Homo sapiens: one gene and its partner. The protein of the gene in region 2 interacts with the protein of the main gene of each other region in a biochemical or structural test. Each region holds a gene or a part of one and is shown on either strand. Other genes may lie near its edges. The genes, in order: ETV4 and SAE1.

The links.
Region 1: of the proteins of SAE1 (region 2) and ETV4, one has a biochemical effect on the other in vitro, tested with the Homo sapiens proteins (one study listed by BioGRID).

The regions. Positions count from the first base shown.
Region 1 is NC_000017.11:43,531,074-43,546,599, reverse strand, and holds the start of ETV4 (ETS translocation variant 4), read left to right. Parts: upstream 1-259; 5' UTR 260-415; intron 416-700; exon of another isoform or gene 701-820; intron 821-931; 5' UTR 932-982; coding exon 983-1,042; intron 1,043-1,232; coding exon 1,233-1,326; intron 1,327-1,577; coding exon 1,578-1,625; intron 1,626-1,800; exon of another isoform or gene 1,801-2,438; intron 2,439-9,825; exon of another isoform or gene 9,826-10,120; coding exon 10,121-10,174; coding exon of another isoform or gene 10,175-10,188; intron 10,189-12,614; coding exon 12,615-12,741; intron 12,742-13,251; coding exon 13,252-13,413; intron 13,414-13,660; coding exon 13,661-13,926; intron 13,927-15,526.
Region 2 is NC_000019.10:47,142,835-47,158,360, reverse strand, and holds part of SAE1 (SUMO-activating enzyme subunit 1), read right to left. Parts: intron 14,868-15,526; coding exon 14,756-14,867; intron 8,160-14,755; coding exon 7,986-8,159; intron 5,464-7,985; coding exon 5,321-5,463; intron 3,248-5,320; coding exon 3,148-3,247; intron 1,692-3,147; exon of another isoform or gene 1,180-1,691; intron 1-1,179. UniProt on the Homo sapiens protein: The heterodimer acts as an E1 ligase for SUMO1, SUMO2, SUMO3, and probably SUMO4. It mediates ATP-dependent activation of SUMO proteins followed by formation of a thioester bond between a SUMO protein and a conserved active site cysteine residue on UBA2/SAE2.

The DNA of each region.
Region 1 (15,526 bases), on a different chromosome or scaffold from region 2:
TTTTATTTTTTTATGAATGGGAGCCGGAGCACTGAATGAAGCCGGGAGCCAACCCCTACATTCTGATTGGCCCCCGCGGCTGGGAAACTCCGCCCCCCGGCCAGGCCGGACGACTCTCCGGATTGGCGGGCGTGCCCAGCCCTGGGGTTCCATTCACAAAAGTCAATGAAACAAAGGGAAACGGGGGGCGGTGTGGCGGGGCGGGGGGTGGAGAGCTGAGGCCGAGCGAAGGAAATGCACCAATCAGCTGCTCCCCCGGGCTCACAACTGTCTGCTGCGCCCGAAAAACAAGTCGGTGCGCTGGGGACCCGGGGCCGGGGCCGCCTTACTCCGGCCTAGCCCCGCGGCCCTCGGTGCGGGCTCCAGGGCATGCTCGGGACCCCCCGCGGCTCCAGCCCAGACGCCCCGGCCTCAGGTGAGGCTGCGGGAGGGAAAGGGAGGGAGAGTGTCTGTGATTCCCCGCCTCGCCTCCAATGCACACCACACTCACTCTCACCACCCGCCTCCGCAGATTCCAGGGCGGGGGTGGGAGGTGCTGGGATTCAGGGTTGGAGGGGGCGCGGGAGTTGTGGGCATGCGATGGTGTGCGCTTCGCCTGCTCCTCCGCGCGCGCGCGCGTACACACACACACACACACACACACACACACACACACACACACACACGTTCTTATGTAACCGAGCCCGGGTAAAGCAGGGCTGCAGAAAGCAGAAACGGCGAGCCCGGCTCCTGGGAGCAGGTGGGACCTCCTTTGGCCTTTGGCGGGAGGGGAGTGGTGGTGGCGCTCGGCCTGGCAGGCGGAAACCTCGCCATCGCCCCAGTGAGTCGGAGAAGTTTCGCCGTCGGACCCAGAGCCTTGGGACTGCCCCCTCCCCGCCCCCATCGCAGCCCTCCCTGGACGGTGTGCGAACGCAGCCCCCTCCCCCACCAGGTCTCGGCCCCCGCTTGGGGCCCCGGCCGTGCGGCCGGAGGGAGCGGCCGGATGGAGCGGAGGATGAAAGCCGGATACTTGGACCAGCAAGTGCCCTACACCTTCAGCAGCGTGAGCGCCGCGCCGGCCTCCACGCCCGCCCCGCCCCGCACCCAGCCCCTACTCTCACCACAGCCCCCCTCCCCGCAGTCCCAGCGGAGTCCTGGGCTGCCCCGCCCCTGAGTCACCCGAGGACCCCAACCTCGTCCCCCAGACTAAGCGCCTCAGGGTGACTCGCGGGCATTCTCCCCGCTTCTCGCAGAAATCGCCCGGAAATGGGAGCTTGCGCGAAGCGCTGATCGGCCCGCTGGGGAAGCTCATGGACCCGGGCTCCCTGCCGCCCCTCGACTCTGAAGGTAAAGAGCAAGAGAGACAAACCGCGACCCTCCTCCGCCACACACACACACACACACACACACACACACACACACACACGGCCGATTCTGGAACCCCCGCCTGTTTCCCCAAAAAACTCGCCCTCCAAGGGATTTTGGTCATTCTTCTCGGTCCCTACTCCCAAGGCAGGGGAGTCACCGGGTCTTGCTAGGGCCCCTTCTCTCTTACCGTCCCCTCCACCTCACCTCCAATTCCACTATTTACCCCTCAGATCTCTTCCAGGATCTAAGTCACTTCCAGGAGACGTGGCTCGCTGAAGGTGAGTAGTTTTGTGACCTTTTCTATTTTGGGAGGCTGGACAGGGGGACACTCCGTAGCCCCTGGTATTCCACCCTAAGCCCTACACTTCTCCTCTCCCTTCCCTGCCTCAAGGAGTTCTCCAAGGCCCTCTCCCCAGGTCCCTTGCCACTCTACTCACCCCAGCACCCAGCGTGGACACTTATATTGATATTTATTTTCTCTACCCTGAGCCAGGCTTGTGTAACTAGGCTTGAGGATGAATCAGACCATTGTGTGGGGTATTTGCTTATTTGAATGGAACTTGGCCCCAGGCCCATTTTCCTGGTTGAAATTTTCATTTGTAAAGTTTGTTTTGCAGAAGCCGCCAGGCCAAGGTGCATGTTGGGGTGTTGTTGGTGGGGGGTGGGGGGAGAAATTAATTTGTCACTCATCCTCCAGAGTTGCCCAAGCATTGATTCTTATCCCCTGGGTTTCTCTTCTTCCCAACCCCCAGCACCAAACAATTTACTGTCCAAGCCAAAAGAACAACAAAAGTTTAAATAATTCTTTTCGGCAGTCCTTTGGCACAGAGAGCCCAGGGCTCCCTCCCCAAATAGCCTTGATTGTAATTCTAATAGCAAGTGTTCCTCCCTCTTCCATCCCGCTTGAATACCTCTGCCTCCAGGCAAATTCCCCCCTTCCTGTGTGCTGGGGAGTTAGCTGTGAGCTGGCTGGGGTGGGGTCCGTGGCTGGGTCCGTGGCTGGGTCTGATGGGGAAGTGGTGTGTTCAGGAGGTTTCCTGGTTGGATTCTTCAGTGCGTTTTGGTGGGGCCTGAGGGTGTCGCTGGTGGGGCTGCAGGTGGGAGGGAAAATGGTGGTTTAGACAGTCTCTGAGAGGGAAGGGTTAACTACCCCCATCTTAGGGTTTATTTTAACACTATGAAAATGAAGAAGCCAAAACACTAGGAACTCCTTTTTTGAGGTCTTTTTGAGGTATTTTCCTTAGGATCTCCTCATCCCTCCACCCTGGGTATCTAATTTTTTTAAAGCTCAAATCCAACTACCCTGGAACTCTCCATAGAAGCTCGGAGTAAAAAGAAAATGACCCCTGACTAGATCCTTGGAGTGAGACTAGGTCTGTCTTGCCCACTATGATATTCTAAAAATATATATGTTGACAGAATGACTATTTAGCATAGAGCAAGCACTCAAGACATTTTGTGGAAATAATGGCTGAATGGCTGTGTGAGTGCTGGAGGGATCTGGAGGTTCTGAGGGTATTGTGTGCATCATCCCCGACCCTGCAAGTCCTGCATGCCCAGCTCCAATTTACAGGCAGAGCTTTGCCCCGTCTCCCCATCCTTCTTCTGAGGTTCTGGAGCTGGGCTAGAGCTGAAGAATGCAGAGGTGTCAGTTTCCGTGGGCTCTCAAAGACTTCCTTTCCCAGTGCCTGATTTCTCTCTGGCTCACCGGGCTTCATTCCTTGCCTGTCAGCTGAGAGTCCCCACAGTGGGCAGCTCCTAGGGCTGTGAGCTAGGGGTGGGCTGAGGTTGGCATTTTGGCAGCAGCTGGTCCATCTGTGCCTGGGTTTGAGATGGGAGGGGGAGGAAAATGCTCTCATCTCTCTACCTTGGAAGTCCCACCCCTTGGCCAGGGGTCTGGAGAGGGTACAAATGTCTGTCTGTGTCAGTGTCGGTGTGACAGCAAGTGTGTGTGTGAGAGAGAGAGAGAGAGAGAGTGTGTGTGTGTTAGTTACATGCTGCTGCCCTGTACATTTAAATCCAGTGGGTGGGGAGGTGGGGTGGGGATTGCAAGGCGGAGGTGAGGGGGGTGGGCGCTGGGATCTCCTTGGTTCCCTCTCCTTCCTTCTGAGGGAGCAGCTCAGGTTCCCAGCTGGTGATGGATGGCCAGGTCTGAGGGGGGGATGCTGAGGCCGATCGCTCCTTCTCACTTTCTCTGCGGAGACAGATGCAGCTGCCGGGGCCCTGTCCCCCTGCACCATCCCAACACCACCCCAGCCTCCTCTCCTGTCTCTTCCCACCAGGTCAGTGACCCCGGCAACCCATGGGGAGCTTTGGGGTGGCAGGGAGGGACTAGCTTCTTTGGAAACTTGCCAGTGGTGGGACGCATTAGGAGGAAAGGGGACCAGAGCCCAACCTCCCTTTCTCAGTTTGGTTTTTTCCAAAGCCCCAATTTGAAGAGAAGCAGCAGGGGGGTCCTGGTAGTGTGGGTGGGTCTGTGAAGACAGCATTTGGAGGAGGCACAGGTTGGAGCCGGGCAGATACAGGAAGATTCCAGTGTGGTTGCAGGTTCAGTGTCCTGCGTCCGGGCGTTGAAGGGTGAGTGTGAGTGCGGCTTTATGGAGGCAGCTCACATATCCTTGGGGTTGGGTTTTTGTACACAGGGGTGAATGATGTGAGGCTAGGAGGGCGTGTCTGATTTGGGGGTGCCTGGGATCTGTTGAGATGTTGGGGAAAGAATCAGGCTGCTACAGGGAGACCCAGGCTCAGGCAGGCTGAGCCCAATATGTGTCTGGCTATGGTAAAAGATATGCTGGTTTTTTGTCCAAGGTTCCTTTCCAGGCTTGTCAGGAGCCCTGAATCCTTGGGGAAAATGACTTTGTTGTCTATTTGGTAGTAAGGGCCATTGACTCTAGGCCATGACCCCTTTGTGTGAGGCTCAGGTCTGTGGATTCCCAGAAGCCCTATGGATAGGTTGCTGGGATCCTTGATCCCTCTGATACTGTGTGTAAAATTGCTGGAAGTGCACCATACATAAAGGTGTATGGATTTTTTTAGGAAGAGAATGACCCATAGCTTTTATCAGATTCTCAAAGGGATCGATCGATCTGCGCTCCCCTTTTCACAGGAATCACTGCTCCCCAACCCTCCTCCAAGGGCTCCAGTCCCTTTGCCCTTTGGCTGTCCCAATCATATTTGTAGGTCAAAAAAAGACCCCATGTGTGGAGGGCATGCATGGAGGGCACATTTCACCCTGTGCTGTCTTGCTGCTGCAAGAGTGAAGTAAAAGGAATTAGGGTGTGTGCATCCCTGAATATGCGTCCGAGTGCATGTACACTGGTGCCTCGGCATGTCTGTGGGGAGGGATGAGGTTAATCTCCTCCCTAATCTTTCCCAGCTACAATGCCTCCTTCTCCATCTTTCTGTCTCTTCCCCTTCCTGAAGACTCTTGGGGACAAATATGTCCCCTCCACAACTAGTGAACTGGTTCCTTCCAGTACAGAGGCTGCCAGGGTGGGGGCAGGGTAAGGGACAGCGGTGACACAATGGAGCAGAAGCTCTGGAGAATGCCTCTACCCCCTTCACCCTATGACTGGATCCTGGGAAGAGGGTGACCGAGCATATGTAGTGTGGGTGGCTAACCTATGGTGAGCTTCAGTGTATCTCTGTTTTAACCTCTCAGTTCTTCCAGAATCCAGCTTGGGAGACCCCCCAAGCCCCTCCTCTTTTTTTACTAACCCCCCTTTTTGAAAGGAGAGTCCCTAAAATTCTTTCTCTCTCTCTGGGCATTATGCTGTCTTGGCACTTTTCCCACCCCCTCCTTAATCATCTGCCTCGTCCCCAGACAGATAAACTCCATCTTAGTACCGGGATGGAGCTGGGGACAGACCCTGGCACACTGGCTTGGCAGCCAAGACTCAGCCAAGTTAACAAATAAATAAAGAGAGTGGTGTACACTTAAGACGAAACATGGTAATTAAAAATTCTCCTGCTCTCCAGGAACGCGAGGCTCAGTGTTCCTGTTTCTATCCTGTTGACAGTCTCTGGATGACTGAGGGCCCTGGCCTACCCCTTTGGGAGAAGGCCAGTGTTTGGGGGAGGGGCTGAGCTAGGACAGATTTCTCCTGGCTCTGGGAAGAGGATGGCACCACCTCTTTTGGGGTGTGGTCTGTGTGCTGGAGGAAGCCTCCTCCTGGATTCCGGGCCTGGAGGGGTCCCTGGTTAAACTGTCAGGCCCGAGGCAGGAAGAAAGGCAAGATGATGCTGAGGGTTCTCTGCTCTCCAGCACCAGTGACGCCAGCAAGAGATACCCCCAGCCCATTACCTCAATGGAAAGTAGCAGTTAATGAGGCCCCAGGGGTGGGGCCGGAATGCGTCAGCCACCCCTGAGTTCTGCACCACCCTTTCCCTTGGGACCCTTCTTGCCTAGTAGGAGGGAGGGAAATGTTGGTCACTCTGCTCCCATCACCCCAGCTTCCTGCCACCTTGGGGGATGTTGCCTCTGAATGGACCAGAGGGCACAGTGGGGAGCCTGGCTTTGCATCCCTGGGCAGGTGGACAGATTTGGCCTCTTACCCTCTATCCAAATGTGCCTATTTTTAAGGTTGTGGTGGCTGAAGTGAAAGGATTACCTGAGCCCAGGAGTTAGAGGCTGCAGTGAGCTCTGATTGTGCCACTGCACTCAAGCCTGACACAGGAGACTTCCTTATAATAGATTTTAAAATGCAGATGCCTGGGCCCCACCCCAGTCCTATGGAATGGGACTCTCCGGAGGAGGGGACTGGGAATCGTGTTTTTATTTTATTTTTATTATTGTTATTTGAGACAGGGTCTCACTCTGTTGCCCAGGCTGGAGTGCATTGGTGCTATCTTGGCTCACTGCAACCTCCACCTCCTGGGTTCAAGCGATTCTCCTGTCTCAGCCTCCAGAGTAGCTGGGATTACAGGCGAGAACCACCATGCCTGGCTAATTTTTGTATTTTTAGTAGAGATGGGGTTTCGCCACATTGGCCAGGCTGGTGTAGAATTCCAGACCTCAGATCGTCTGCCTGCCTCAGCCTCCCAAAGTGCTGGGATTACAGGCGTGAGCCACCACACCTGGCTGTAATCGTGTTTTTAACAACGTCCTGGTGACTCTTGAATCAGGCCAGTTTGGGAATGGTTGTCTTTTTGCCGTGTTTGTGCTCCTGAAAAGATGTGTGCTGGCTGTGTGTTTCTGTTTGTTCTTGCCAGCGGATTTCATGTCTCATTGATGTCTTTGGTCACTTCAGACCAAAGTATTATTATGTTGACTTGTCCTAAGTTCTCGTTTAGCTGCTGGTGGCTTGTGATTGTTAAACTCCCTCTCCCTAATGCTTCTGTCAAGAAATCAACTATCTATTAATATAAGCCTATGTTTATAAACACTTGGCACCTCTGATATTTAAAGCAAATTGTTGAAGAATATTCTTGCCAAGCAACATATCACAACCTAAAATATCCCCTGTGAGATGTGCTTTCCTGGAGAGGACCTGCCTCTAGTGTTGCCTTGTGTGTGGAGAGGGGGAGCCTGCAGGGAAGGGCTAGGATGGTCAGGATCTCTTCAGTGCATGCCCTCAGGCCCACAGTGCTGACTTCTGCCAGCCTGAGGACAAACGATTATTGCATGTTTATTCATGTAGTCAAGAAATAACAGCACTGAGCGTCTACTCTAACCCTGTGCTGGGTGCTGGGGCATCAGATGACAAAAAAGATAAAGCTCTTGCCCTCACAGAGCTTAACTTCCTGGTGGAGGAGATAGGTAGATAACAAACAGGTAAACATAAATTAATATATTCAGGTGGCAATATGTGCCAGGGAGAAAACAAAACATAGATGCAATAGAGAGCCAGGAGGAACCACTTTGGTTTAGGGGTGGTCAGAGAAGGCCTCTCCAGAGATGTCAAAGTGAGCTGAGACTCTGATGGTCAGGAAAAAAAGAAAAAGGCAAGAAAGCATCTGGGGAAGAAGGAACAAGCTCAGCAGCTTTGAGGGCTAGAAAGGAGACCAGAGTGCTGCAGATTCACAGGCAAGGAGAGGCAGGTCAGAGAGGTAGGCAAGGCCAAGTCATGCAGAGCCTTGGAGGCCAAGGGCAAGCGTTTGGATTTCATGCTTTAAATAACAGAGAGAAATGATTTTATTTCTGTTGTAAAAAGATCACTGTGACACCTAGGTGGAGAGCAAGGGACCATAGGAGGTAAGAATGAAAATAGGGTATCCTGGTAAGAGGCCGTGGGTGAAATCCAAGTAAGAAATGATGGAGCCTTAGCCTAGAGAGAAGCAAAAGAGATGGGATATGTATTTGTATAGGCCGGGGGTGTGGAGGTTTTTTCTAGCCATCTCATACCCCTCACCAGCCATTTTGACCTCTCTGGGCATTTTATCAGTTTCCCCATTGTCCAATCTGAGAGCAGTCTCCAGGGAAGGAGAGAGCAGTCTCCAGGGAAGGAGAGTCCAGCCTCCTCGGGCTACAGGTTCCACTGCATCACCCTAGAACCACTCTCTTCCTGGAATAATATCAGGAAGTTCTTCTTGGTGTCTACATTTCCTGCTGTGATCCATTTATTTTTGAGAGAGGGGCAAAAGTGGGCCAAGACTCTGGGATCAAGGGAGATTCTTAGCTGTATAACCACCTGAGAAGCCCCGCTCTGGGGAGGCCAGAATAAGAACTAGAAATCAGAGTTTGATGTTCAGGTTAGAAGCCATGGATGAGCTGCTGCTGTATTTCAGTTTTCCTGCCTATTCCCCAACCCAGCTCCACCCATCCTGGCATCCTGGGAGAGCTCTTCGGATCACCAACCTTGGGAATCCCTCCCCTCCTTAGCTGCACATTAAGGGGATGAGGCACCTATGTACTCAGCCAGTGTCCTTTGCCTTCTGCAGTGGTCCCAGTCACCAGCCTCCTGCTCTCCCACTGTCATCCTCCTTTTTTATTTTATTTATTTATTTTTGAGATGGAGTCTTGCTCTGTCGCCAGGCTGGAGTGCAGTGGTGTGATCTCAGCTCACTGCAACCTCCACCTCCCGGGTTCAAGTTATTCTCCTGTCTCAGCCTCCGGAATAGTTGGGATTACAGGCGTGCCACCACGTCCAGCTAATTTTTTTTTTTTTTTTTTTGAAATGGAGTCTTGCTCTGTCACCCAGGCTGGAGTGCAGTGGCCTGATCTTGGCTCACTACAAGCTCCGCCTCCCAGGTTCACGCCATTCTCTTGCCTCAGGCATACTCCTGCCTCAGGATTAGCTGGGACTACAGGCACCCGCCACCACACCCGGCTAATTTTTTTTGTATTTTTAGTAGAGACAGGGTTTCACTGTGTTAGCCAGGATGGTCCTGATCTCCTGACCTGGTGATCTGCCCGCCTCAGCCTCCCAAAGTGCTGGGATTACAGGCGTGAGCCACCGCGCCCGGCCTAATTTTTGTATTTTTAGTAGAGACAGGATTTCACCATGCTGGTCAGGCTGGTCTCAAACTCCTGACCTCGTGATCCGCCCACCACGGCCTCCCAAAGTGCTGGGATTACAGGCATGAGCCACCATGCCCGGCCTTTATTTTTCATTTTTTGGAACAGAGTCTCACTTTGTCACCCAGGCTGGAGTGCAGTGGCATGATCTCAGCTGACTGCAACCTCTGCCTCCTGGGTTCAAGCAATTCTCCTGCCTCAGCCTTCCGAGTAGCTGGGATTACAGGTGCCCACCGCCACGCCTGACTAATTTTTTAATTTTTTAGTAGAGATGGGAGTTTCACTTTGTTGGCCAGGCTGGTCTCAAACTCCTGATCTCAAGTGATCCTCCCACCTCAGCCTCCCAAAGTGCTGGGATTACAGGCATGAACCACTGCGCCCAGCCACCCCCCTATGTGATTTTATTTATTATTTAATTTTATTTTTCTTTTGAGATGGAGTTTCACTCTTGTTGCCCAGGCTGGAGTGCAGTGGTGCGATCTCAGCTCACTGCAACCTCTGCCTCCCAGGTTCAAGCGATTCTTCTGTCTCAGCTCCTGAGTAGCTGGGATTATAGGCTCCCGCCAACACGACCAGCTAAGTTTTGTACTTTTAGTAAAGATGGGGTTTCGTCATGTTGGCCAGGCTGGTCTCGAACTCCGGACCTCAGGTGATCCACCCGCCTTGACTTCCCAAAGTGCTGGGATTATAGGCGTGAGCCACCATGCCTGGCCGCCTCCTATGTGATTTTTAAATCCACAGGATCCCACTGCTTATAATGCCTGCCCATCCTAGATATGACTGTTGTGAGCTTTAAGGGAGTTTTGTAAACTCTGAGGGGCGAGGCTGTTTCACTTCAGAAAAATGGAGGAAATAAAGACAAAGCATCTAGAAGAAGAAAGACTGGAATCTGCTCAGACAGGTTCTGAGAACAGTCTTCCCTCCTGGGTCTTAGTGGAGCCCAGAGGTGGAAGACACTAGGACCTAGGGTGGAGCAGCCTTTAGTCTCAAGCAAGCTTGTCCAACCCGTGGGCCTGTGGGCCACTTTCAGCCCAGGGTAGCTTTGAATGCGGCCCAGGCCCAACATAAATTCCTTGTAAAATTTCTTAAAACATTATGAGATTTGTTTGTGATTTTAAGTTCATCAGCTATCGTTAGTGTTAGTGTATTTGTGTATTTTATGTGTGGCCCAAGACAATTCTTACAATGTGGACACCCCTGATCTAAAGGCTGTTGGTCCTTTCTTGGCTGTTGCTAATCTGCAGGGCTGTAATAATGGAGCCTCCCAGGGGACAACCAGGGCTCCGCCCCAAACTCACCTCTGACTTCTCTCTGCAGCTCAGGTACCAGACAGTGATGAGCAGTTTGTTCCTGATTTCCATTCAGAAAACCGTGAGTAGAGGTCCCTGGGGAGAGGGTATAGGGAGTGGAGGATGGCAGGAAGTGAGTCATAGGATAGAGAATCACAAGAGAGCAGCTTGTTCTCTCCTAAAACACAGTGGGGTTTGATCTTAAAGACCAAGGCAATAACTGGAATGAAAACCTTGGTTGAAATCTGGGGCTTGACATGTTCTTGCTGTGTGACCTTAGAGCAGACACTATCCCTCTGGTTCTCCATTGCCTTATATCTGAAGTGAGGGGCCTGGGCCAGTTCAGCAGAGTCCAGTTCTAGTGTTGTTTGTTTGTTTGTTTGTTTGTTTTCCCCCCAAGACAGAGTCTTGCTCTGTCACCCAGGCTGGAGTGCAGTGGCACAATCTCGGCTCACTGCAACTTCCGCCTCCCGGGTTTAAGCCATTCTCCTGCCTCAGCTTCCAGAGTAGCTGGGATTACAGGCATGCACAACCACACCCAGCTAATTTTTGTATTTTTAGTAGAGATGGGGTTTCACCATGTTGGCCAGGATGGTCTCGAATTCCTGACCTTGTGATCCGCCCACCTCGGCCTCCCATAGTGTTGGGACTACAGGCGTGAGCCCAGTGCGCCCGCCCCCAGTTCTAGTATTCTAAGTCACTTCCATAAACTGGGGACAATTTTGCCTCCCAAGAGACATTTGGTAATATCTGTAGACATTTTTGGTTGTCACAGTTGAGGGTGGGGTGCTACTGGTGTCTAGTGGATAGAGAGGCCAGGGATACTGCTAAAAGCATCCTATGATGCTCAGGACCGCTCCTTACAATATTATTAATAAAACACTATCTGGCCCACAGGTCAGTAGTGCCACTGTTGAGAAACCCTGCTTTAGGCTGGGTGTGGTGGCTCACGCCTGTAATCCCAGCACTTTGGGAGGCTGAGGCGCGTGGATCACATGAGGTCAGGAGTTTGAGACCAACCTGGCCAACATGATGAAATTCCGTCTTTACTAAAATACAAAAATTAGCCGGGCATGGTGGCGTGTACCTGTAATCCCAGCTACTCAGGAGGCTGAGGCATGAGAATCGCTTGAACCTGGGAGGCGGAGGTTGCAGTGAGGCAAGATTGAGCCACTGCACTCCAGCCTGGGTGACAGAGCGAGGCTCCATCTCAAAAAAAACAAAAACCAAAAAACAAACCCTGCTTTAATGTCAGATACTTTGCTGTCAACTGTCTTCACCAGTGAAACAATGGGGCACAAAGAATCAAAAACAGCAGAGAATAGTTGGTTACAAACGGCATTTGACTGGACTGCGGTTAAAACTGAATCTCACACCGGCTTGGAACCAACTCTTTGCTGCTCAGCCTCGTGGCCAGAGTTTGGGAACCCCGCAGGGGCCACAGGAAAGGCCAGTGTTCTTCACAGATAAGTAGGAGCATGTGTATAATGTTAGTCAGCTGACATTCAAGTGGGCCAATATCCAACCTCAACCAGAAAAAGAAAGATTCTTTTATTTATTTATTTAGAGACAGAGTTTCACTCTTGTTGCCCAGGCTGGAGTGCAATGGTGTGATCTCGGCTCACTGCAACCGCTGCCTCCCAGGTTCAAGCAATTCTCCTGCCTCAGCCTCCCGAGTAGCTGGGATTAAAGGGATGTGCCACCACGCCCGGCTAATTTTTTTGTATTTTAGTAGAGATGGGGTTTCTCTATGTTGGTCAGGCTGGTCTTGAACTTCTGACTTCAGGTGATCCGCCCGCCTCGGCCTCCCAAAGTGCTGGGATTACAGGCGTGAGCCACCGCGCCCGGCCAAGAAAGATTCTTTATATCCTCAAATAAGAAAACATGTCACTCCCCTGGAATTTTCCAGGGCACTCAGGAAAACTACAGGCCCTAGGTTGGAGGTGCTCACTCCTTGAAAGTGTTTTCTGGGGCCTGGGGTTGCATTAAATGTTTTTGTTTTTTGTTTCTTTTTGAGACGGAGTCTCGCTCTGTCACCCAGGCTGGAGTGCAGTGGCATGATCTCGGCTCACTGCAATCCCCGCCTCCTGGGTTCAAGCAATTCCCTTGCCCCAGCCTCCTGAGTAGCTGGGACTACAGGCATCCGCCACCATCCCCGGCTAATTTTTTTTTGTATTTTTAGTAGAGACAGGGTTTCACCATGTTGGCCAGGCTGGTCTTGGACTCCTGCCTCCCAAAGTGCTGGGATTACAGGTGTGAGCTACCGTGCCCAGCCTAAATGTTGAACTTTAGATGGTTTATTTAGTCAATAATCAGACACTAGTCTGATGTATAAACTAGACATAATGTAAATAGCCAAAATGTTCTTGTCTCACTGCGGGTCTCAGAAAATTGATACCCAGAGAGGGAAGGAGGCTGTACCAGTCACCCAGCTGGTCCTCAAAGCTCAGAAGGTATCAGAAGCCCTGCCTGCCTCTTGTGTGACAGGCTCTGGCCTTGCTCTGTCCCCTCCACCCCCACAGTAGCTTTCCACAGCCCCACCACCAGGATCAAGAAGGAGCCCCAGAGTCCCCGCACAGACCCGGCCCTGTCCTGCAGCAGGAAGCCGCCACTCCCCTACCACCATGGCGAGCAGTGCCTTTACTCCAGGTGAGCCCCAGCCTGGACCTGGTGAAGGGTAGGAGAAGGGTTCCAGAGGAGGGAGGCAGGGGGCACCCATGAGCAGAGGCAGCAGCTGAGATGCAAGTTAGACAACAGAAAGGATTTTCTAGCACTTGTAAGGAAGCAATACAGCTAAGGATTTCCTCTGAATAGACGGAAAACGCAGCAGAGGGCCTCAGGAATATATACTGAGGCCAGAGCAGATTCTGTTTCCACCAAGAGGCCCACTGTCCCACCTAAACCATTGCTCTGAGCAACAAATCCCCCCTGTATGAATCCCAGGGGTTCAAGACTAGCCTGGGCAACAGAGGGAGACTGTCTCTGAAAAAGAAAAGAATTGGCTAGGGCTGAGTCTGTGGCTCCTGCCGTTCCCTTCTCAGCCCCCTCTATCCTTCCTTCTCCTGTAATCCCTGTGACCTCGCTTTCCTAGGAATGAAGGGTTCAAAGATGCTTTCCAGCTTCTCTGCCCCCTCACCCCTGTCTCCTTCTCAACTCCAGTGCCTATGACCCCCCCAGACAAATCGCCATCAAGTCCCCTGCCCCTGGTGCCCTTGGACAGTCGCCCCTACAGCCCTTTCCCCGGGCAGAGCAACGGAATTTCCTGAGATCCTCTGGCACCTCCCAGCCCCACCCTGGCCATGGGTACCTCGGGGAACATAGGTAAGGAGACAGGGAAACCCACTGCTCATGGGCCCAGGTGTTTTTTCAATTCCTGAGTGTTCTCCATAAAGACTTGAGCTGTGGGGTGGTAGAGGCAGGGGGCAGTGGAATAGAAAGGGAGAAATACTGACACCCCAACCCCCTACCCCCCATTCCGGAGCCCACTCTAAAAGCCTAGGAGTAACAGGCTCGAGGAAGGATTAATTTAAAGTTCTCTTCTCTTCCTTCTCCATCCAACCACATCCAGCTCCGTCTTCCAGCAGCCCCTGGACATTTGCCACTCCTTCACATCTCAGGGAGGGGGCCGGGAACCCCTCCCAGCCCCCTACCAACACCAGCTGTCGGAGCCCTGCCCACCCTATCCCCAGCAGAGCTTTAAGCAAGAATACCATGATCCCCTGTATGAACAGGCGGGCCAGCCAGCCGTGGACCAGGGTGGGGTCAATGGGCACAGGTACCCAGGGGCGGGGGTGGTGATCAAACAGGAACAGACGGACTTCGCCTACGACTCAGGTAAGAGACTGGGGTGGGGCAGGGTGGCATGTGATCAAGTGTTCAGTTAAGCCCAGAATGTCTCCCGAGTTTTTTTACATTGCTGTTTACCATTTCATACATCCAACCCACCCACCCACTTTTTTTCTTCATAATTTCAAAAGAATGTTATTTTTCTTTCTTTTTCTTTTTTTTTTTGAAATGGGGTCCTGCTCTGGCCCAGGCTAGAGTGCAGTGGCACGATCTCTGCTCACTGCAACCTCTGCCTACCGGGTTCAAGCGATTCTTGTGCCTCAGCCTCCCGAGTACCTGGGATTACAGGCACCAGCCACCGTGCCCGGCTAATTTTTGTATTTTTAGTAGAGATGGGGTTTCGCCATGCTGGCCAGGATGGTCTCGAACTCCTGACTTCATATGATCCATCGCCTCGGCCTCCCAAAGTGCTGTGATTATAGACATGAGCCACCTCACCCGGACAAATTATTACTTTTCAATGAGCAAACCTATATTCAGATTAAAAGATAAGGGGGGCCCCCGGGGCATGGTGAGTCATCTGTAATCCCAGCACTTTAGGAGGCCATGGCAGGAGGATCGTTTGAGCCCAGGAATTAGTTCAAGGCCAGCTTAGGCAACAAAGTGAGACCTCGTGTCTATTTATAAAAAAGTAAAATTAAAATAAAGGGGGATGTAGATCCTGCCCTCAGGTAGCTTGTGACTTAATAGGGAAGTTAAGGCATTTATTTCTATTTAACAGGTGTTTGAGGTTTTAATTACCTATTAAGACCAAACTACTGTGACAGGAACACGAGTGTGCAGAGTTGGGAAATACAAAGATGAATAGGATGTGTCTGGTCCCTATCCCCACAGAGGCTTAAAAATACAAAGGGATTTGAATGAAGAGAAACATGAATTTGAAACTAGCCAGGCTCATGGTTCTTGCTAGTTCTCAATAGGAGGGCAGGGTTTTCTTGTTTTGTTTTGTTTTGTTTGTTTTGAGACAGAGTCTTGCTCTGTTTGTTTGTTTTGAGATGGAGTCTTGCTCTCTCGCCCAGGCTGGAGTGCCACTGGGTTCAAGCGATTCTCATGCTTCAGCCTCCCGAATAGCTGGGGTTACAGGTGCCCATCACCATGCCCAGCTAGTTTTTGTATTTTTAGTAGAGACGGGGTTTCACCATGTTGATCAAGCTGGTAGAAGCACAGGTTAATATGTGGCTTACATATTTGAGCCTCCCAATTGATGTATGCCCTGGCCAGAGGCAAGGGCAGAGGAAGTAGGGACTTCTTTAAATTCTAGTTCCACCTGGCTGTTGACTGGAGTGAGATGCACTCACCTGTGTTCATAAATAGCTATAGTTCAAAGCCTCAAGGGCCGAAGGAGGGCCAGTCCCAGGAAGGGTCCAGAAAACCCTGCCTTTTCTTCTTTCCTCCTGGCTTTTGTTACATTAGTAGCCCTAGATCTGAGTTTATTAGAGTAGGCCCAGAGCTAGCTAGAACTTTAGAATTTCCCTTTTTGTGGTGCCCACAACCGTTCAAGGGCAGGGGGATGAACCACAACCCCCCAGGCTGTCCAACTAAGAACCGGATGGTGCTCCTGTCCTCAAATCCAGGGCATAAGCCTGAG
Region 2 (15,526 bases):
CCTATTTCTGGGCTAGGCATTTTCCTAAGCCCTTATTTATCAGAATGGCACAGGTGCTAGAAAGGCCCACCAGCTTCCTAGAGGGTGTGAAAACCACAGGCTGTTTTTCCTTTTTGTTTTTCAACGTTACTAATTTAGGAGCACAAAGTGTACCTTGAAGCAAAAGTGGCTTTACAACCTTTGGTTAAACCTAGGGAAAGCGGGGAGGGGAAGGGAACCCTAACCAGAAAACCTTTCACAGGAAACAGGAAGTAGCTGCTTCCCCACCCCCACCCTGCACTCTCTGAGCACAACCCAACTAGTTATTCTGTACAATTAGGCAAAAGGGCAGCATCTGAATCAAGGAATCTTTGGTGTTGGAAGAGAACCTTGAAATCACAGGGCCATCTGTGCCAAAACGGAAGGAGGCATGTTATTGCAAGGTGACAAAGCCATGGCCAAAACCCAGTCCAGCCCAGTCGGTCCGCAGGGCCCTTGGTGAGGCTGCACAAAGGCAAGGTTTGGAATCCCAGGGATTGTCAGCAGGAATGCACTGAATGCCTCGTAACCTTAAGGGCTTGGGGTTGGAATCCGAGCCTGCATTGTTCAAGTGTAACAGCTGACTAACAATGTCAGCTGGGGAATATTTTGATACCTTCCAGCTCAGCTCCACGTAGGAAGAGGCTGCACAAAAACCTCTGTGCCTGTAGGGCCCTCCGGAATGGTGGGCAAAGGCCTGGGCTGCCCACATTCTCCTCATAGCGAGATAAAGTGGTTCCCAAAAGAGGTTTCCAGATCCACCCCAGTGGGCACCATCAGAACTGACTCCAGGGAAACTTCCAGCTGTGAATGGCTAACAAAGCTAGGCACTCTCTCCATTTGAATGTGAAAGACCTGCCTCAATCAGAGAAGGCCCTTAAGCCATAAAACCCTTCACACCAAGGCCAAGTGTCACACTTGTAAGAGGGTGTGATTTATAAACTGACAGCACCCACAAAGCAGCTTTTGTACTCCTCCGTTTGTTAACAATTTATCTCCCCCCACCAAATTCACGGAGCTATTCAGATAAATCTTGACTGGGCCTCAAAAAGAAAGAAAGGCACCCAAGTTTTGGCCAAAACACCAAGGTTCACTCTGGATAATTATGGTTCTGTGAATAGACACTAAAATTAGGGCTTAATTCCTCTGTATCACACTTACAGCACCAAACTACTCCAACACAAACACAAAATGAGAAAGAAAATCTCCAACGCCGCCTTGCTGGAGAGTCTGAGAGTTCCACTTTTGTGGTTTTCTGCAGTCTCTTTTGTGGTTTCTGCACTCTTTAGAATCCCCTCGTTAGCGTAATTTAACTCAACATTCTGACCAGCTGTTTTTCTTTCTCAACATTTAAATCTACAAAGCAAAGAGTAAATATGGGCTTGGTCATGTCTTTCCTCTCAGTTCAATGAAACCAATTCTGGCCCCTTCATCTTGCTTTCCCCATCGCATGGTTCCCATCTCAGATTCCAGCACTAGCTACAGAAACCATCGTCTTCTGATCCCTTCTCCACTCCTTTCTATAAATGTAATTATTGCACCTAATCCAAATAGAGGCTGAGCCCCTAATATAAACTACATTAACAAATATGAATCTGAGGATTCATACCATCCTGGCCAACATGGTGGAACCCCATCTCTACTAAAAATACAAAAATTAGCTGGGTGTGGTGGCACACACCTGTAGTCCCAGCTACTTGGGAGGCTGAGGCAGGAAAATCTCTTGAACCTGGGACGTGGAGGTTGCAGTGAGCTGAGATTGTGCCACTCCAGCCTGGACACAGCAAGACAACATTGAAGGATTTTTCTTATTAAAGGTTATTTGGCAAAAGGAAAAAAACAGGCAAAGAAAACTTTTTTTTTTGGAGACAGAGTCTCGTTCTGTCGCCAGGCTGGAGTGCAGTGTTGCCGTCTCGGCTCACTGCAACATCCGCCTCCCCAGTTCAAGCTATTCTCCTGCCTCAGCCTCCCAAGTAGCTGGGACTACAAGCAACGCACCACCTTGCCCAGCTAATTTTTGTATTGTTAGTAGAGAAAATACAAAAAATTTTTTGTTTTGCTTTTTTTTTTTTTAGACAGGATCTTGCTAGGTGGCCCAGGTTGGGGTGCAGTGGTGTGACCATGGCTCACTGCAGCCTCCACCTCCCAGGCTCAAACAATCCTCCCAGCTCAGCCTATGAGTAGCTGGGCCTACAGGTGCTCACCATCACGCCAGACAAATTTTTACATTTTTTTTGTAGACACGGGGTCTTGCTACTGTAACCCAGGGCTGGTGTTTTGCTGCTTTAAAAAAAAAAGTTTTCTGGTCGGGCATGGTGGCTCATGCCTGTAATCCCAGCACTTTGTGGGGCTGAGGCAGGTGGACCACGAGGTCAAGAGATAAATACCATCCTGGCCAACATGGTGGAACCCCGTCTCTACTAAAAATACAAAAATTAGCTGGGTGTGGTGGCACACACCTGTAGTCCCAGCTACTTGGGAGGCTGAGGCAGGAAAATCTCTTGAACCTGGGACGTGGAGGTTGCAGTGAGCTGAGATTGTGCCACTCCAGCCTGGACACAGCAAGACTCCATCTCAAAAAAAAAAAAAAAAAGGGTATGGGGCCGGGCATGGTGGCTCACGCCTGTAATCCCAGCACTTTGGGAGGCTGAGGCGGGTGGATCACCTGAGGTCAGGAGTTCGAGACCAGCCTGGCCAACATGGTGAAACCCCGTCTCTACTAAAAATACAAAAAAAAATTAGCCAGGGGTGCTACTTGGGAGGATGAGGCAGGAGAATTGCTTGAACCCAGGAGGTGGAGGCTGTAGTGAGCCGAGATCATGCCATTGCACTCCAGCCTGAGCGACAAGAAAAAATTCCATCTCACACACACAAAAAAAAAAGTTTGGGACAGAGCCTACAAAAGTTTGCATTTCTCATTGTCTTGAAAAATCCCATCTGGAATCACTGGGCCCACATTCCCTCACAGCAACAGCTGGCTGACACTAAGCTGTGGCAGCCTCCCTTTAGATGGGACAAGCACCCGCCCCACCCCTTCAAGAAGTGCTTGCTCTTATCCTTTTCAATCGTCATTGCCTGACCCCTCCAAGGCCCCAGGGTTTCTGACCTCTGCCCCCACGTTACACATACCTTTTTGACCATCGTTGTCTCAGAAGAATCAAGTTTTGCTCTCTTGGTGTCGGGCCCATCTTCTACTCCTTGGCTAACTTTGGCAACTTTAGTTTTCTCCCTAGAGGGTGACAAGGGGAGAGAATGTAATTTTACCCTAGGAATCATGTTATTGGAATCAAAAAAAGCCTCTCCAGGTCACAGATCGGGATGGTGGTTAAGGGCAAAAGCTTTGGAGTCAGATCTCGGTTCAAATCGAGCTCTGCCATTGATAACATGATGAGTCTGGTACACTGTTGGGCACTCAGGAAATTATTGTGGGAAAAACAGAGCAGCGTAAGTTGCTCAGCACACTGCTGGGCACACAGCTGCTCTCAATAAATCAAAGTGATTACTTTGTAAACACTCTACTTGAATCATGAAATAAATAGCCAAACTTGGCTGGGTGCAGTGGCTCACGCCTGTAATCCCAGCACTGTGGGAGGCCAAGGCGGGCGTGTCACCTGAGGTCAAGGGTTTGAGACCATCCTGGCCAACATAGCAAAACCCCGTCTCTACTAAAAATACAAAAAACTAGCCGGGCGTGGTGGTGGGCGCCTGTAATCCCAGCTACTTGGGAGGCTGAGGCAGGAGAATTGGTTGACCCCAGGAGGAGGAGGTTGCAATGAGCTGAGATCACGCCACTGTACTCCAGCCTGGGCAACTGAGTGAAAGTCTGTCTCAGAAAAAAAAAAAAAAAAAAAAAAAAAAAAAAGCCAAACTTAATTCTGCCCCTCTGCTGTGGGCAGCTTATGTTAAAATAATCTGGATTGCTTCCCACTACTATAACTTCTTTATAATATACCCAAAGAAGCCAGGCATGGTGGCTGTAATCCTAGTACTTTGTGAAGCTGAGGTGGGTGGACCACCTGAGGTCAGGAGTTCAAGACCAGCATAGCCAACATAGTGAAACCCCGTCTCTGCTAAAAATACAAAAATTTGCCGGGCATGGTGGCGGGTGCCTGCAGTCCCAGCTACTCAGGAAGCTGAAGCAGGAGAACCACTTGAATCCAGGAGGTGGAGGTTGCAGTGAGCCAAGATCGTGCCATGGCACTCCAGCCTGGGTGACAAAAGCAAAACTCCGTCTCAAAAATAATAATAATAGCCGGGTGCGGTGGCTCACGCCTGTGTAATCCCAGCACTTTGGGAGGCCGAGGTGGGTGGATCACCTGAGGTCCGGAGTTCAAGACCAGCCTGACCAACATGGAAAAACCCTGTCTCTACTAAAAATACAAAATTAGCCAGGCATGGTGACGCATGCCTGTAATCTCAGCTACTCCGGAGGCTGAGGCAGGAGAATGGCTTGAACCCAGGAGGCAGAGATTGTTCTGAACTGAGATGGTGCCATTGCACTCCAGCCTGGGCAACAACAGCAAAACTCCGTCTCAAAAAATAAAATAATAATAATAATAATATGCCCAAAGAACTAGATTATCCTAAAGCCATAAAACACTAGAGTTAGGAGATGTCTGGAACATGACTGTCCTTCCCCCATCTTGATTTTACAGGCAAGAAACTTGGAGACCAGAGAAATTTCAGTGACTTGCCTGAGAGGCTGAACAAGAGAAGAGTTCTCAGTCTCTTGGTAGGAAGCTCCTATCTCACAGAGCCTGTCTTTCCCTCTCAATTAGCAAGTTGGAGGGTTTTGGAGGGGGTGGTCAGAAACTGCAGCCAAAATACCTAACTCATATAGTTTTACAATAATGTATCATCTGCCATCTTTCACCTAGAGACTACAAAGTCAAAACACGGCAAGTCCTGTCATGTAAGAATTACCAAGTTCTGCAGCCTCAGTGTTCAAAATGAGAGGATGAGGTCTGTTTGTTCTACCAGAGGAGTCTCTCTGGATATTGGACACCTTTTCCAAGGTAGACTTTGGTTGAATATGCCTCCAGAATCGCCCAACTATTTTGTAATCATTTTACTATCTCTCAACTTGAAAACATGTCAGCAGACCAGGCGCAGTGGATCATGCCTATAATCCCAGCACTTTGGGAGGCCAAGGTGGGAGGATCACTTGAGCCCAGGAGTTCAAGACCAGCTTGAACAACATAGCATAGATCCTGTCTCTACACATAAATAAATACATAATTTAAAAAAAAAAAGTATAAAAAGGAGAAAATGTTATGTTCTCCCCTCCTCTCCCAACACTTACTCTACAAACTCATGCTCTCCTAGATTGGCAAATGTGTATCCATGGTAGCCAAAAACATCTCCTGTAAAGAACTTGATGCTATTTTTGTGACAGATCTGGTCAACTTTAACTATGACATCCCTGGAGCAGCAAGTCAGACACACCTGCAGAAAGAAAGAAATTGGCTGGGTTTGAGTTTTGCAAACTGTGAATCACTGCCCTGATGTCTAAATAAATCTTAATGAACAGTCTCTCTGGGCATGCTCAAAGCATGTTTCAAACTGGTACAACAGGTTCTTTGGGCCCTATGGCTAGAAGACAAAAGAAAAGTTGCAGGTTTCAATGTGTAGAAAATATAAGTTATGAGACCGTCACGTTCTGCAGCCAAAATAAAATGTGTTTAGCTAAAAAGTAAAAGCCATTCAACAAATGTTTTCTGTAATCCACGAACATATACACATTTCATAGTTCTCATAAAAAAAATAACTTAGCAAGTTGTTTCTATACTGCTAAATCTATTAAAATCCAAATAAGCTACAGGGACAAGCAAAACCAGTTTTTTAAATTGACCCAAAGGTCATGTTTAAATACAAGGGCTTTTTACCCCCCTCCTTTTGATTGATATGTTAAGATAAAGAAGATAAACAAGTCCTGTTGAGATCATTTTTCCACAGATTGCGGTGTGAAACTTTATCTGAATTTAAGGACAAAAGAAAAGGTTACAGACCAAGTGACCTTCCATTCAGGCTTAGACAATGAACTGGTGATCCACTCAGTGGAATTATCAGTGTTGCTCTGGGGCCTCCAGGTTGTATTCCAGTAAGTTGAGGTATTGGAAATGGCTAAGTTCTACTGCACAAAATACCATCTTTTCGGGAGAAGCTTTGTGATCATGGTCAAAAGACAACTTCCAAATTGCACATGCTTTCTCCTGAACAAAAGGACATTTTCACTTGATAGACCCTCTTTGCTGTTGTCTAGCAGCCTGAATACCGAAATAACACTCACAGAGAAATGTGTTCCTTTGGTGTTTCAAAGAATGCAGCCACCCAAGGAAAAATCCCATCTAAAAAGTAAGAAATCCACAGGTGAACATGCAACCAATTGATCAAATGGAACCCTGCAGAGTCTAAAGTAACTATAAAACCTGCAAGGACCAGCCAAACACGGCCTGCAAGGCGGTCAACATGGCCCCATGCACACGCATTACACAATCAACTGGCCTCACACTTCAGTTTTAACAAACCCTCTAACTCTACAAGTTCAAGGGACACCTGGCATAAAATAAATGTGGTTACTACAGATAAGAAAATGAAGACTTATGTCCAAATGGAAAGTGTCCCAATACCTCAAGTTAAAAAATAGAAGGGACTAGGAAAAAGAAAACAGGACAAATGCACAGATGATCCATCCTTCCAAGCCCATATTTGAACAGATGCACATATGAAATAGAAAAGTGTAAAAACGGGAGGCTGAGGCAGAAAACTGCTTAAACCAGGGAGGCGGAGGTTGCAGTGAGCCAAGATCATGCCACTGCACTCCAGCCTGGGCGACAGAGTGAGACTCCATCTCAAAAAAGAAAGAAAGAAAGAAAGAAAAGTGTAAAAAACAGGCCAGGTGCAGTGGCTCACACCTGTAATCCCACCACTTTGGGAGGCCGAGGCAGGTGGATTACCTGAGGTCAGGGGTTCAAGACCAGCCTGACCAACATGGTGAAACCCCATCTCTACTAAAAATACAAAAAATTAGCCCAGCATGGTGGTGAGTGCCTGTAATCCTAGCTACTTGGGAGGCTGAGGCAGGAGAATCACTTGAACCCAGGAGGCAGAGGTTGCCATGAGCCAAGATCGCACAATTGCACTCCAGCCTGGGCGACAAGAGCAAAACTCCATCTCAAATAAAAAAAGGTGCAAAAAAAAAAAACTACCCAACCCAAATTCTAACCTCTCATGTAACATACTGGGGCCTTTCATTTAAAAAACTAGTAGCTCATCTATGACTATTTCACATTTATCAAGATTTGTTAAGCTTTTCCAGAATGCAGGGAACTATGTCTGAAAGGTTGCAGATATTGACAAAGAATTTATCCTTTCACCTCCGCATAGATTTGGCAGTGAAACTAAATGAGGCTGGATATGCCTCATTTGACTTACGACTACAGTGATTTTTCTCTAGTTATCCATGGCAACATGGTCAATGTGACTGTGAGAAACAGACAGACAGACATAGATCAAGATCAGGTGTGCTTTTCTTAAGACAAAACACAAGCTGTAGTTTGATATTTCTAACAAAAAAATGCCGCTGCCACAGAAATTAATCACCAACTTGTTAAGTTTTCGGAAGAAAACATTTGCAATAACATGGATTAAAGTTATGTGCAAAGATTCTGGAAGGAAGACAAAACACCAAAGACGAAACCTGGCTGAGGGAACATATGCCCAGAGAAGAAGCCAGCAGACAGCAAGTCACCAACAACTACAGCAGATGCAACAGACTGGACCTCTCTAGCAACACATTCACACAATATACTAAGCCTAAACAATAGAACAGCTTATACATTTTCTTGGGAAAAAGCTCAGAATTTGATATTTGAATGCTCTCAGATTGCTTTGGGATTTGAAAGTATATACAACTAGCACCTTAATTTGTTTAATTCCCACAGCAGATTTTATAATAAGAAACTTACAGCATCGAATTGAGTGAAAAATGACTCTGGTTTCTTCTCTATATCCTCAGTGTCCACCTTCACATCCACCATGGGGTTGAGATTCTGAGCTCGCTCCAAAGAGGCTTCAGCCCTATTTCGGCCAACAGACCCAGTACGAATCAAGAACTGAGCTCCGGGATCTTCTGGAGTTACCTAGGAATAATACACATATTTTTTTAAGTCTTGTATTTTTAGGGAAAATAAATCTTAAAAAGAATCTTTAAATTTTAAAGGATAGCTAAAATACCTACCACCTAAATTTTTTTTTTTTTTTTTTTTTGAGACAGTCTTGCTCTGTCACCAGGCTGGAGTGCAGTGGCATGATCTCGGCTCATTGCAACCTCCGCCTCCTGGGTTCAAATGATTCTCCTCCTGCCTCAGCCTCCCAAGTAGCTGGGACTACAAGCACGCACCACCACAACAGCTAATTTTTGTATTTTTAGTAGAGACAGGGTTTCACCACGTTTGCCAGGATGGTCTCAATCTCTTGACCTCGTGATCCGCCTGCCTCAGCCTCCCAAAGTGCTGAGATTACAGGCATGAAACACTGTGCACAGCCCTAAAATGTATTACTGTTCCTGTAGCAATTTGCCTTATGCAGGCTTCCTTCTAAGGCTTTAAAATGACTTTAAACTTTTTTTAAACTGGTCATTGATGGTTAAAGAGCACCCCCTTGTGTTTATAAAGAAAATTCACTGTCAACAAAAAAATCCATGCTTTCTTCTTCTATGCAAATTTGTAACTGCTAACAAATGACTGATTAACAGTGGCAAGAATTGACTAAATACTTAGCATGTGCCCAACTATAAGCATTTGGGGAAATACACAAGTAGTTTAAAGGATTAAATCTCTGTCTTCCAGTGGTTTAAAACTAGACCAGTGTGGGCAGGGCACGGTGGCTCACACCTGTAATCCCAGCACTTTGGGAGGCCGAGGCAGGAGGATCACCTGAGGTCAGGAGTTTGAGACCAACCTGGCCAACATGGTGAAATGCCATCTCTACTAAAAATACAAAAATAAGCCAGGTGTGGTGGTGTGTGCCTGTAATCCCAGCTACCCAGGAGGCTGAGGCAGGAGAATCACTTCAACAGGGGAGGCGGAGGTTGCAGTGAGCTGCGATTGCACCACTGTACTCCAGCCTGGGCAACAGAGCAAGACTCCGTCTCAAAAAAAAAAAAAAAAAAAAAAAAAGTAGACCAGTGCAGCCTGGCACAGTAGCTCACATCTGTAATCCCAGCAATTTGGGACGCCAAAGCAGGAGGATCACTGCTTGAGGCCAGGAGCTCAAGACTAGCCTGGACAACACAGAGAGGCCCTCTCTCAAAAAACAACAAAAATTGCAACCTCATGAGAAAACTTAAAAAAAAAATCAAACTTGTGCAAAAATCAGACACAATTAAGAATGCTTGAAATGAACTTTTAAAAAACATAGATAGACTATGGCCAGGTGCGGTGGCTCACGCTTGTAATCCCAGCACTTTGGGAGGCCGAGGCAGGCAGATCACCTGAGGTCCAGAGTTCAAAACCAGCCTGACCAACATGGTGAAACCCCATCTCTACTAAAAATACAAAATTAGCCGGACGTGGTGGCACACGCCTGTAATTCCAGCTACTCGGGAGGCTGAGGCAGGAGAATCGCTTGAACCTGGGAGGCAGACGCTGCATTGAGCCCAGGTCGTGCCACTGCACTCCAGCCTGGGCAACAGAGTGAGACTCTGTCTCAAAAAAAAAAAAAAAGAACTCAGAGAGGTGGAGAGATGAGTGGGGACTGGAACAGAGGAATTATTTCACCCCTAAGGCTGAACATCAGCAGAGCAGAGCCTCAAAGACAGGATAATATAATCCCCTAATAGCCACCAGTAAGATTACAGATTCCATACTGCTCTCAAAGTATTTCTTCACACATCAAACATCTAATTTAACCATTAATCTCTGCAAATAACCTTGCCACCTTCACCAAGACTAGGTACAACAGAAGTAATCTCCCCTCAACACCTCCTACCAACCATCCACAGCACACTCTCTATCTTACTACCTTCTCCTCCAAGAAAATGAGCTGGCCCACTTCCCATTCTAGGCTAACCCTGTATCCTTGACCCATTCCATCCTGCTTCTTCAGGGATCTCATTATGTGCTGAGAAGCTGTACCACACAATGGTTAACAGTAAGGCTCTGAAATAATTCAGGCTGGATTCAATCTTTGATTCAAATCCTGGCTCAACAACTGTGTGAACCTCAGCAAGAATGTGGGAATCCCATATAAAACGAGGACATGGATAAAAACGTACAGTTGAGGGCCACGCGTGGTGGCTCACGCCTGTAATCCCAGCACTTTGGGAGGCCAAGGCAGGCAGATCACGAGGTCAGGAGATCGAGACCATCCTGGCTAATACGGTGAAACCCCATCTCTACTAAAAAATACAAAAAAATTAGCCAGGCGTGGTGGTGGGCGCCTGTAGTCCCAGCTACTAGGGAGGCTGAGGCAGGAGAATGGTGTGAACCCGGGAGGCAGAGCTTGCAGTGAGCCAAGATCGCGCCACTGCACTCCAGCCTGGGCAACAGAGCGAGACTCTGTCTCAAAAAAAAAAAAAAATACAGTTGAGGCTGGGCACGGTGGCTCACACCTGTAAACCCAGCAGCTTGGGAGGCTGAGGTGGGTGGATCACTTGAGGTCAGAAGTTCGAGACCAGCCTAGCCAACATGGTGAAACCCCATCTCTACTAAAAATACAAAAATTAGCCGGGTGTGGTGGCACACGCCTGTAATCCTAGCTACTTGGGAGGCTGAGACAGGAGAATCACTTGAACCCAGGAGGCGGAGGTTGCAGTGAGCCAAGATCTCACCACTGCACTCCGGCCTGGGCGACAAGTGAGACTCCATCTCAAAAAAACAAACAAAAAAAACATATAATTGAGCCCAGAAAGTTCAAGACCAGCCTGAGCAACAATCATGAAACCCAGTCTCTACAAAAAATACAAAAAATTAGCCAGGTGTGGTGGCGTGCACCTGTAGTCCCAACTACTGGGAGGCTTAAGTGGGAGAATACCCTGAGCCCAGGAAGTTAAGGCTACAGTGAGCCATGATCATGCCCACTGCATTCCGGCAAGGGTAACAGTGAGACTGCCTCAAAAAAAAAAAAAAAAAAAAAAAAAAAACCCATACACATACAATTATCATTTCATCACTATCAGTCCACAGATCACACCTTCCTTGCTTTGCTCTCCTCTCGTGCTACACATTCTAGTCTCAATTTGGGCCCTCTTAGGTGTGGCTGTCCCCAAGCTTCCATCTCAGAATTACTTATCTTTCCACTCTGTATAGCTCCATAAACCAACTCAATGCCTCTTTCAGTTTCTACCAAAATCTGCTGTTATTTTTCAAATCACTCTTTCTGGTGCAGATTTCTTCCTGATCCACCTGAGTCTTCTCTACTGTACTGCCCACCAGCCGTTTTCTCTCAGATATCCATAAACCCTACATGTCTGCCTGCTTCTGTGTGCTGTCTCCGGAGTCCACCAGCCACCCACCCAGTCACTCAAGCCAGAAGCCTCATCTTCATATCCTTGCTATTTCCATGAGAGTGGTCCATAGTGAGGTGGCTGAGAACATGGGCTCTGGAGTCAGATGCCTGGGTCCCGGCCGTACCACTAACTACTGGGGCCTTGGATGGGCCAGTACTTTTCTTCCTTTTACTCAGTTTTCCCATCTGTAAAACAGGGATGGTAATGGGTCCTTGATCTCAGATGTGTTGTGAGGACTCAATGAGATAATACAACTGCAGCTCTGAGAACAGTGCCTAGCCCCTTCAGTGTCAGCTGCTCTGGTTATTCCTGGCTTTCCTTAAGCTCCCATACACAGACCTCCCAATTCTACCACCTAAATCTATTTCTCACATCTGTGTGCTTCCTGCCATCCCTATCAGCAAGGCCACTTTCACCTCTCACCTAAACTACTAAAAACTGCCTTCTAAGTGGTCTTCTGCCCTGTATTTTGTGCCAACCATAGTTTATACAGTAATTACTGATCTACACATAAAGCCCAAAGCTAACCATGTCACCCTTCCTGTCATTTGAAACTCTTCAGTGAGTCTGCACCACCCAGAGGATTAAGTAAAAGCTTACAGTGGGGCTTCCTAGGAGCCCCTCCTGACTTGGACTTCACCAGCAACCTGTCCCTACCCACCACTTTGGGTCTCACACTCTAAAAACACCAAACTACTTTTAGCTTCCATTTCTACCACACTGTAGGGTGCCTTTGTGACACTGCTATGTCCCCTGCCTAAAACACAGGCTCTTATCTTGACAACCCTCCTTGTTCTTTAAGACTTAGCTCAGATCAGGACTCCAGGAAATCTTTCATGTACCACAACCTCAGTCAGGGAGCCTGCTATGGTTTCCGGAAAAAAAAAAAAAAAAAAACCTTGAGAATGGGAACCAAACCGTGAGCATCTTTCTATCACCAGCACCTAGCAGACTTCAGGGCACCCAGTAGGTGCTCTCAGATGCTTGTTGAATGTAAACTACATAATACGCTCTAAGATGGGTGCAGTGGCCTCACACCTGTGGTGTCAGAATCGCACTGTTCTGTGATTGGCCTCCAATGTTGGATTCTTACAACCAGATGAAGTAATTATGTAATCCCAGCTACTAGGGAAGCTGAGGCAGGAGAAGTGCTTGAACCCGGGAGGCAGAGGTTGCAGTGAGCTGAGGTTGTGTCACTGTACTCCAGCCTGGGCGACAGAGTAAGTCTTTGTCTCAAAATAAATAAATAAAATAAATAAAATGTCACTGAGGCATGGGAATGTAGAGAGAGCAGCACTTATTTTCACCTTGAAGATGAGCCTGGTCAGAGAAAGCTACATTGGAGTTGGGCTCTACCATTATAATATTAATCAAACAGCATTATGTCAGCAGGGGATGGTAGCTCACACCTGTAATCACCGCACTTTGGGAGGCCGAGGCCAGCGGATCACCTGAGGTCAGGAGTTCGAGACCAACCTGGCCAATATGGTGAAACCCCATCTCTACTAAAAATAACAAAACTTAGCCAGGCATGGCCGGGTGCGGTGGCTCACGCCTGCAATCCCAGCACTTTGGGAGGCCGAGGTGGGAGGATCACCTGAGGTCGGAGTTCAAGACCAGCTTGACCAACATGGAGAAACCCGGTCTCTACTAAAAACGTTAAATTAGCCAGGCATGGTGTTGCATGCCTGTAATCCCAGCTACTCGGGAGATTGAGGCAGGAGAATTGCTTGAACCTGGGAGGCAGAGGTTGCAGTGAGCCAAGATCACGCCATTGCACTCCAGCCTGGGCAACAAGAGCTAAACTCCGTCTCAAAAAAAAAACAAAACAAAACTTAGCCAGGCGTGGTGGTGCGTGCCTGTAATCCCAGCTACTTCAGAGGCTGAGGCAGGAGAATCACTTGAGCCCGGGAAGCGGAGGTTGCAGTGTGCGGAGATTGCGCCATTGCACTCCAGTCTGGGCATCACAGCAAGACTCGTCTCGCAAAAACACACAAACAAACAAACAGCATGTCAGATCATTATTCCTAATTACTGGATACTTGTTAGGTTCAAGCACTATACAAAGCAGTCTGCCCACATTCTCTCTGATCCAGTGTTGTTTGTTTTTGTTTGTTTTTGTTGTTGTTGTTGTTGAAACGGAGTCTCACTCTGTTGCCAAGGCTGGAGTGCAGTGGCATGATCTCGGCTCGTTGCAAGCTCCGCCTCCCAGGTTCACGCCATTCTCTTGCCTCAGCCTCCCGAGTAGCTGGGACCACAGGCGCCCGCCACCAAGCCCTGCTAATTTTTTGTGTCTTTAGTAGTGATGGGGTTTCACCGTGCTAGCCAGGATGGTCTCGATCTCCTGACCTCATGATCTGCCCGCCTCAGCCTCCCAAAGTGCTGGGATTACAGGCATGAGCCACTGTGCCTGGCCTGATCCAGTGTTTTTTAAAGTGATGTCTGTGGACCATCTAAATCATAATCTCCTGAAACACCTTTCATTAATTTATTTCTTTTTAAGGCAAAGTCTCACTCTGTTGCCCAGGCTGGAGTGCAGTGGTGCCATCTCAGCTCACTGCAAACTCCACCTCCCAGATTCAAGCGATTCTTGTGCCTCAGCCTCCCGAGTAGCTGGGATTACAGGTGCACACCAACATGCCTGGCTAATTTTTGTATACTGAGTACAGACAGAGTTTTGCCATGTTGGCCAGGCTAGTCTCAAACTCCTGACCTCAGATGATCCGCCTGCCTCAGCCTTCCAAAGTGTTGGGATTACAGGCATGAGCCACTGCGTCCAGCCCTAAAACACCTTTTAAATGCACATACTCCTGAGCTCGCCTCAGACCTAAATGAGAATCACTAGGGGTGAAAGCTAGGGCACCACGAAGCCTCCAGGCCACTCTGCATTTTCAGTTAGTCACTCAGGTCATTTTTAGGCACAAATTGGAAAAACACTTCTCTACACCTCCTCACAAGCAACCACCAAGGGAGATATTACTAACCCCATTTTACAGGCAGGCAAGCTCAATGAGGGGGTGTGAGTCTCTACTGCTCATCCAGCTAGATGTGGTGGAGCTAGAATTCAAACCCAACAATAGCACCTTCAGTCTCCAGAGGCAATGGTTTATTAATGTTAGCCCTCCTTTCACAGCCCTTAAGGCACAAGGAGGAACTCACAAAATCTGCAGATCTTCATGCTGGAAAGGGGAGCCAGAGCAGGGGAGGAATGAGCTCACAACAGCGCACCTGTTCGTGATCCAGCATGGTCAGTCCTTTCACTCCTGCCAAGATGAGATTCTTGGCAATTTCAGCCCCAAGTCCTTTCAAGCCGACAAGAAGCACCCGAGAGGCCCGCAGCCTGTAAGACAAACATTGTTAACCTGATGATACAGAACAGTGAGCTTGCAGAATCACAGAAGAACAAAAAATACACAAATCATTTTGGTTTGCCAGGCACGGTGGCTCATGCCTGTAATCCCAGCACTTTAGGAGGCTGAGATAGGCGGATCACTTGAGGTCAGGAGTTCGAGACCAGCCTGACCAACACGGTGAAACCCCGTCTCTACTAAAATACAAAAACTAGCTGGGCGTAGTGGCAGGCGCCTGTAATCTCAGCTACTTGGGAGGCTGAGGCAGGAGAATCACTTGAAACCATGAGGCGGAGGTTGCAGTGAGCCGAGATCATGCCACTGCACTTCAACTTGGGCAACAAGAGTGAGACTCCGTCTCAAAAAAAAAAAAATCATTTTGGTTCTAACTGCATTGAGGCATCACACCTCGAATCTAGGAAAGAGACAGGCTCTAATCCATACTGCACAAAACAATTCATTCAACAAATATTTATTGAGTACCAACTATGCCAGGCATCCTTCTATGGTGTGGAAATAAGGCGGTGAATCAGACATAGTCCCTGCCCTCATGAAAAAGTAGGAGACAGATAAACAAATAGATACATAATATGTGAAAAAGTGATGAAAATCAAGTGTGACAAGAATCAAGAATGATGGAGAACGCTAT